Linked DNA regions of Homo sapiens: region 1 is linked to region 2. Evidence: fine-mapped expression QTL. A gene starts in region 2. The other region holds a variant in brackets. All regions are shown on one strand. Distances are from middle to middle.

The links. PIP is the estimated chance that this variant, and not a neighbour inherited with it, causes the effect.
Region 1: its variant is the best candidate, but not a certain one, in a credible set for the expression of GPR158 in lung (TOPMed, PIP 0.54).

What each region holds. Positions count from the first base shown.
Region 1 is chr10:25,194,366-25,198,757 of GRCh38, forward strand. The region is part of intron 1 of GPR158 (G protein-coupled receptor 158); the gene reads left to right. Among named protein-coding and RNA genes, the nearest start is that of GPR158-AS1, 20 kb to the left of the region's middle. The variant A/G (reference allele first, on the strand shown) is at 2,199.
Region 2 is chr10:25,172,298-25,176,689 of GRCh38, forward strand. GPR158 (G protein-coupled receptor 158) reads left to right here and starts at 2,704. Exons shown (of 11, transcript NM_020752.3): 1 at 2,704-4,025. The coding sequence starts at 3,124. GPR158-AS1 (GPR158 antisense RNA 1) reads right to left here and starts at 3,979. Exons shown (of 2, transcript NR_027333.2): 1 at 3,379-3,979.

The sequences.
Region 1 (4,392 bases), 22 kb after region 2:
CCATCTCTACTAAAAATACAAAAATTAGCCAAGCGTGGTGGTGCATGCCTGTAGTCCTAGCTGCTCAGGAGGCTGAGGCTGGACGATTGCTTCAGCCCAGGAAGCGGAGGTTGCAGTGAGCCAAGATCGCACCACAGCACTCTAGCCTGGGTGACAGAGCAAGACTTCATCTCAAAAAATATATAAATAAATAAAGAATGGAAGAGCCAGAAGTGAGACGACTTGGAGGAGTTAGAGGAGGCCAATTCTGCATGACAGGAGAAGGAAGTATAGGCAGACTTATCCCTAGTGAAGAGTAGTCACAATCGAAAACTGGCAGTATGAGTTTTAGGAAATAAAATCATCATTAGCTTCTCCAATATGAAAAATGTGGAATTTGGTTTCGTTATATTCCTTTCTTTCTTTACCCTCTCCATTGTTTTATTATAGTTATAATTTTTCTGTTGGTTATTTTGATTTTTGCATCTATAAATTTTAGATACCTTTTATTCTTTTCTTCTTTTGCCCTCCTACCTCTGTTGACTATTCTAATATTTTTGGATAATTAAAGATAATAACATTTGTATTCTGTTACTAGAGTAAAAGAATTCTCTGCTTTGTCCATTAATTTCCTCTAAGAATTGACAGATAAATAATCGGATCCTGCCATTTTAAGAATCTTCCAAATTTCAAAGTCCAGATCTTTTTCTAGATCACTTGCTTAAAACCATGCTACGTTTTATTTGTGCATATCTCCATCAAGATTTTTCCCCACCCATTGGAGTTGCTAATTGCCTTTTTATTATGTTAAAAAAAAAAACCCAAGGAGTCATTTTATTTCTAAGATCAACTTTTTCTTTCTTTCTTTCTTTTTTTTTTGAGACGGAATCTCACTCTGTCACCCAGGCTGGAGTGCAGTGGCATGATCTTGGCTCACTGCAACCTCCTCCTCCTGGGTTCAAGCAAGTCTCATGCCTCAGCCTCCCAAGTAGATGGGACTACAGGCATGCACCACCACACTGGGCTAAATTTTTGTATTTTTGTAGAGTCGGGGTTTCATCATATTGGCCAGGCTGGCCTTGAACTCCTGACCTCAGGTGATCCACCCACCTTGGCTTCCCAAAGTGCTGGGATTACAGCCATAAGCCACCACACCCCGCCAGCCCAACTTCTTAAATCAATCATTCCATTTGTTAAAGAAAATTCATATTTTTATTGAAGACATTCCTGGAGTCCTGTGATTTGTATAAGTCGCTTTAGGTCTTTTGCAGAACAACTATCATGGACATCTTTTCAAATTATTGACCTTTTGGATTAGTTCAACAACTGTGTGTTGGATGCAAGCCTTCTTATTTCTAAAATTCTTCCTCTTCTTTTTCTTTTTTTCACCCTATGGAACACTCAAACACATTTTTCAGACAGGATATGTAGAATTTATAATTTCTAAGTCTTCCCGTGCCAGAAAATGTCTTCTAACTGTTAGTCAGAATACAGAAGTATAGGTTCAAAGTCATTTTGCCCTCAGAATTTTAAACACATTGTTATATTGTTTTTAGCATTCATTGTTGCTTATGAAAACTTTGATGTAACCTGATTTATTATACCTTTGTAGGTAATATTTTCTCCTTATGGAAACTTTTAATATCTTTTCTTTTTCCTTGGGGTTCTGAATATTCATGATGATGTGCTTAGATGTGATTCATTTTATTGATTACACTTGCCATTTAGTGGGCCCTTTTAGACTTTTTCACTCAGAAACTTTCTTTTATGATTACATAAATTATTTTCTGCTATCCAGTTTCTCTTTCTGTAACTCCTACAGTTGAATATTTGACTTTCTGGATAGATTTCTATATTTCTTAACTTTTCTTTCATTTTCTCCTTTAAAAAAAAAACTTCTGAGAGATTTTATTCTTTTCTTTTTTTGTTATTTTGAAATAGTTTTCCTTTGGCAATTTCTCTTAATGTTCATGAACCCTTTTTTTGCTCTCGGATTATTTTTCATAGTTGTCTGTTCATTTTCTTAAATCTCTTTGAGGATCTTAATTTAAATATCTATAAAGTCTCTTTTGTTCCCTGAATTATTGTTGTTCCAACTTCAGTTGTTTTGCTTGTTTATGTCTGTTCTCCTTTATGCCACCAGTTCTGCTAAATATGATCCTTAGTTGGTCATTATTTTTATGATTGAAGGACTAGGTTAAATTGTAAAGTTAGGTGGG[A/G]CGTATCTTGTGACACATGTGCAGGCCTTGTTCCTCAACAGATCTCTGCCTTGACTATTGGGCTTCTTTCCCCTTAGGAAGCTAGACAAAGAAGCTGGCAGTCTCTGCCCCACCCTGGACCTTTACTCTAGGAGAACTAATAACCATTCTAGAAACTTTCACTCTTCCCAGAAATGTCTTTCAATCTCTGCAGAAGAGTTCTTGATTTTTTGCTTGGGAAAAAATGCCATCACTGTGCTGTAGGGAGGGGATGTGGCAACTCATGTATCTGTTTAGAAGTAAGTCCTTCATTTAATCACCTTGATGCCTGCTTTAGTTTCCACTCACACTCCTGATGCCTGCCAACTATGGTCTTAACACAAGCTGTCCTGCATGAGCATTTTCGACCTGTGCTCCAGGCTTCTGCTAAGCATAGCCTTAGCTGCCACCCCTCCCTGGCTTATCATCACGATCCTGGAGAATTCTTTCAAATCTCTGGTCAGGTACTTCTCCTCACTGTACTTGCTCCCTCTTGTACGTACTTCCTGTCATTACAGTTGGATGTGGAGGGAGGAGGTAGAGAAACATATGATCTGTTCACTATTTTAAACAAGAACGTGAACCTAGGCCCTCTGACCAGTCTTCTTACCCTTATACTTAGGATATGAATATCACATTCGCCCTTTTACTTATTACCTGTGTCTTTAGGTAGAAGCCATCTCACCTCTTTGTGTCCCAAATTTCTTACTATTATTTAGGGAGAATAATACTGACCATATGTAGTTGTAATATAAATTGAGGAGAATAGTATCAGTCATATACAGTTTCAATGAGGATGTTTTAAGGGTGTCTAGCATAATGTCTATTAGGATCTAGAAAAAAATCTAAAATTTAAAAGTCTGTGTAAATTATCAGCTTTGTAATTTGACTTTAAGATCCGTATGAATAAGATCCAGCATAAAAAAGAGTATTTAAATTTAAGAAGTTATTAACAAAGAAGATATATCTTTGCTTGAAAATTAAAGTAAAATCTTAACACAATTGGCATGTTTAATTAAATCACTAGATCTCAAGGTATGAGACAGCCATTGTATATTTTAAGGCAGATTACAGTGTTCACATACATTTTCTTTCTCTGACAGAACATGCTTTGTTCTTATTTCTTCTTCCCTGGCAATGCAAAAAAATATAACTTTGGACATGTTATGAAACTTTAATGAATCTAATTTTCTTCATCTATAAAGTGAGAAAAGTGTTTCCTCCTCTCTCTCTCCTAGGACTCTTTGAATTAAACAAGTCAATAATAGAAGTGACCTCCTTGCACTGGGTTCCCTGACAAGAAATTGTCTCATCCTATTCAGAAATGGTCATATCCAAAGAGGTTCTTTAAAGAACCCTGTGGATGTGTTTGATAAAATTGCAGCTAAACATGATTATAGTGAAGGAAAACCACAAAAATGAGATGTTGGTCTGCTACCTTTGCAAAAAACAGCAGACTCAAGATATATTTTTCAGGGGAACAGTCACCTATTATCAGATTTTGAACCTTAGCAATTTTAAGAGATGTGCTGCATTTAACCTGCAGAAGCCCCAAAACACAAGAATTGTATTTGTGGGTAGAGGATAGATATTCCATGCTGATTGAGCTTACTTCATTATATATTTATTGACTTTATCAAACTTATATTTTGCAACATAAAACATACAGACCTTCCCAAGGAAGCCTTGACCTGATTGCCAGAAAGACTTCCAAGAACAAGAAGCCAGACAGATGGAAGACGTGAATACTATGTAAAGTTTTGGCAAGCTTCTCTGGACATGTCTGCTGCAAAGTGGTGTGGGGGAGGAGAACATTTCCTTGCTTTCAGACTTGCTGTAAAATTCTCTTATATGTTTTAGAGGGGATCAGGTCTTACAATTTACATTATCACAGGACTATCAGGTCATGATTGAAATTATGGATAGTTACATTCTTGGAAAATAGATTTAAATTGTTTTCTGGCAATATTTTGGGAAGATAACTATTATTAATGATGCTAGAGAAAAAAGACAGCTACAAATGCCTCTTAAATTTGGCCTTCTAAATAAGCAGAAAGCTATTTGATAATAGTATTCTTGTATAACTAATGCTAATTGTTTTGTAGAATTTAAGAGGCAAAAATAAATTTATTATCTTAAGGCTGCGCAATGGGTTACCATACAGCAATGAAGGAAA
Region 2 (4,392 bases):
CTAGAGCTTGTACTCTAGGGTAGCCTCTGGCCACGGGTGGCTAGTCAGCACTTGAAATGTGGCTAGTGTGAAGTGCCTTGTGCTGTGAGTGTAAAATACAAATCAGATTTTGAAGACTTAGTGTAAAAAGTGTAAAATATATCATTAATACTTTTACATTGTTTACTTATTGAAATGATAAAAATTTGGATATATTGGGTTACATAAAATTTACTATTAAAATTAATTTCAGTCTTTTTCTTTTTACTATCTTAATATGCTATTTGAACATTTGAAATTATTTATAAGGATCCTACTTCTGGTTCACATTGTATTTCTATTGGGCAGTGCTGTTCTAGATCCAACTAGCTCATCCCAGCTGTTTGGCAATGTAGGTTGAAGGGGATCCATTGAAGGGAATACTATAATTGCAAGAGTCTCTCATATTCTGCATCTTTCTCATTAGATATGCACTTGGGAAAGGATTGGTGCCCTGGGAGACTAGCTCAGGTGCCTCCCCCGTACAACCTCAATGTGAAATCCCGAGGCCCACACACAGTTTGTGTCCCAAGACACAGAAATTTTAAATGTCTTGCCAGTGGTCATATATCTTCCTTTAAAATAAAGCTAGAACCAGAATCCAGGTCTTTTGATTGTGCTTAGTTCATTTGATTACTTACAGAAGGATCTACGAATACAATTATGTCTTCTTTTAAGTTAGATACTAGAGGATTTTAAAGAATTGTTAATAAGTTATATAGGTTTTCTAAAAGGATCAATGAATGAGGAAATTATACTTCGGACTTTAGATGGTTAAGTAAATGGAATACCATAGTTTATACTTTGATACATTAAATAAGCAGAAACTCTTTCTGTTATTATTGCCACCCATACTGTGGCAGAGCACTAAACCGGGATGACCTTTACTTAGCATAGGAGCATACATTGCAAAGAAAAATTTAAACAAAAAGTCGGAAATGAACATGAAATCTACTTGTAAGTAAATATAAATCTAATAACCACTCTTTGCATAACTATAAAAACTCATTTGGAGACCAACCACTGCGGTTTGAAAAACTGGTTGCTGTGTCTTCTTCCAAAAACCCTCATCACTGGTGTGTCAGGCAGACTTCTCTTCTTGGGTGAGGAGATTGATTTTTAAGTTAGCTTCATCATCATGATCTTCCCATTCATTCACTAATTTAGCAACTATTTAGCCAGAGCCTACTATGTGCCAGGTAGTGTTCTGGGTGCTCAAGGTACCTCAGTGACCAATGCAGACAAAGATTTTTGCTCTTTTGGAGCTTACATTCCAGTCCTTAAGTATTTTCTCAATAGGAAGGATGACATGAAATAGTACAGTGAATCTAAGCAGTGCCTGCTTAGAATGCCATGAGGGACATTTTTGTTAGTTGGGAATTAAAGTAAGTTGGATATTTTCTATTTGTGTCTTTCTTGGGGAATTTGAAAATAGAGGTGCATATGGAAAGTGGAGCTAGCTGTGCAAAACACTACTTTTCTGGTACCAGTCTACTTTTGGAGTGTCAGAAGACACTTAAATTCTCTAATAAGCGTCAAAACATCAATTAGATTGTGTTAAGAAATTTACCAATAATTTGGGGGACTTGGCATACTTGCTCAGTTCTTCTTTCTTCTGCTGGGATATCCCAACCTTTAGCTAAATAGAAGTCTTAGTTCTTATCTCTCAATTCCAGGAACTCCCAGTCAGGATGATTTCCCTTCTCACTCAACACAGGCTCCTTCTCATTCTCCCAGAGCTCATGAGTCCTCCCCCTTGCTCTCTCCCTTACACATCTTTACTTGCATACATTTTTACACGTTCCCCTCCATTCTGGCCCCCAAGCAGAGATTCCTTAAATATGACTTTTTTTTCTCTCCTTAAAGCACAGCTGGTAGATTTCTCCATTACTCCCTCAGCTAAGATGAGCCTAGACAAGTATGTTTTAATCATTTCTTTAACTGACAACAAGAAAGATGATTTGATAATTTGCCTAAAATGAGCAGATGCTCAGGAGGACACGTCTCCATCCTATGTCCCTTCTGTCTAATTTCACCTAGAAATGAAAACTACTCCCTTCTCCCTCTTTTCCAGGCAAAAGGCTGATTTAACTAAGCATGCAAGACGCCAACACCCTCCCCCTCAGTACGTCCAAGTTTCCTTCGCTCTGAGCCACCGAATCTCTGCTTCTCCCCCCTCTGCCGCCCACCCTACGCCACCCACGCAGGTTTCCGAGTCATCCGGAACGCGAGTGGGTGCGAGGACTCGGCAGGCTGCCTCCCGCGCCCCCGCCGCCCGCGGGCCGCCTCGGGTTCAGCACTGGACAGCTCCCTCCCCGGCCCCACAAATGGCAGTCGGCTGATTGACAGAGGAGCCGACCAAACAGGGAACAAGACGACTTGCAGCCGCCCTACAAGGGTTTGGTTGCGGCCAAGCTGCCTCTTTAAACTGGCTTTCCTCCCCCGAGGAGGGAGCAGGGAGAGAGGGTGGAGTGTGGTTTGCGGCCAAACCTAAAGGCTGCAATTAACCAGCCGCCCGGCCTTCGCTACTCCGGACAGACGAACGTCTTAAAGGACGTCTTCGCTCCTCGGGAGTCGCGGCTGCGCTCGCGGTGCGGGTCTGGGCGCGCGCCCCGCGCCTCCGGGCGAAGCGGTCGAGGAGGAGCCAGTGCCGGGAGGCGGGAACGACCTGCGGCGGGTGAGACTATGGAGCAGCGTCTTCGGCGGCCGCGGCGGCAGCAGCAGCAGCAGCTTCTGAACGCGCCTCAATGAGAGCGGCGGTGGCGGCAGCCGGGCCGAGAGACGGACTCGGGCTGACTCCAGCCGCTGGGAGCGCGAGGCCATGTAACCCGCTCGGCTCCAGGCTGCGAGGTGCGTAATCCCCAGCCGGCCCCTCGCGCAGCGGGCACGGCCAGCGCTGCCACAGGTGACTTGATTTCTGCGACGGTAGCTTAGCCACCCGGGGCCAATCTCGAAACATTCTTATTTTCAAGTCCTTTGGACTGGGTGCCATCTGGAGAAGGGGGAAGACTCCTCGAAAAAGTCTGACTGTTGAGAAACTGACGATCCAAATTTAAAAAGTGATTCCCCCCCCTCCCGTTCCCTCCTCTTCTCTCTGGGAGGCAGATGGGAGCCATGGCTTACCCCTTACTCCTCTGCCTCCTGCTTGCTCAGCTGGGATTGGGAGCTGTTGGCGCCAGCCGCGACCCCCAAGGACGGCCGGATTCCCCTCGAGAGAGGACCCCGAAGGGGAAGCCGCACGCCCAGCAGCCGGGTCGAGCCTCTGCCTCGGACTCCTCGGCTCCCTGGAGCCGCTCCACCGATGGCACCATCTTGGCGCAGAAACTCGCCGAGGAGGTGCCCATGGACGTGGCCTCTTACCTCTACACCGGGGACTCCCACCAGCTGAAGCGAGCCAACTGCTCCGGCCGCTACGAGTTGGCGGGCCTGCCGGGGAAGTGGCCAGCCCTGGCCAGCGCGCACCCCTCCTTGCACCGGGCGCTGGACACACTGACACACGCCACCAACTTCCTCAACGTGATGCTGCAGAGCAATAAGTCGCGGGAGCAGAACTTGCAGGACGACCTGGATTGGTACCAGGCGCTGGTGTGGAGCCTTCTGGAGGGCGAGCCCAGCATCTCCCGGGCGGCCATCACCTTCAGCACCGATTCGCTGTCCGCACCGGCCCCACAGGTCTTCCTCCAGGCCACGCGCGAGGAGAGCCGCATCCTGCTCCAAGACCTGTCCTCCTCCGCACCCCACCTGGCCAACGCCACTCTGGAGACCGAGTGGTTCCACGGCCTCCGGCGCAAGTGGAGGCCCCACTTACACCGCCGCGGCCCCAATCAGGGGCCCCGGGGCCTGGGCCACAGCTGGCGGCGCAAGGACGGGCTCGGCGGGGACAAGAGCCACTTCAAGTGGTCTCCGCCTTATCTGGAGTGCGAGAACGGGAGTTACAAGCCCGGGTGGCTGGTTACTCTTTCCTCTGCCATCTACGGGTTGCAGCCTAACCTGGTCCCGGAATTCAGGTAGGGAGGGCCGGGGGGCAGGGGGGAAGGCAAAAGCGAAGCTTTCCTTCCGGTCTTGTGGGTGGGTGCACGTGTGAGGAAGGAACCCTTGGCTGTGACGCGAACGCTTCTCACCCTCAGAGTAGAGACCCGGGCTGAGGGACACCCCACGCGGGCGCGGGTGCTTGGGGGCAAGAAGCGCCCCACGCCCGTCAGCTTCCGGCGCTCGGCGAAAGCCATTCATTCTCTCGGACCAGTTTCCCCGCACTGGGCGAGGGACAGGCAGCCCTTGGCAGGACGGAGACACCCCCGCTGCTCTGTGCTTCCCTCCAATTGTCCGGAGAGCAGGGAGGGGCGTTCCCCACCGGGGGGCGATGCGACAACTTGG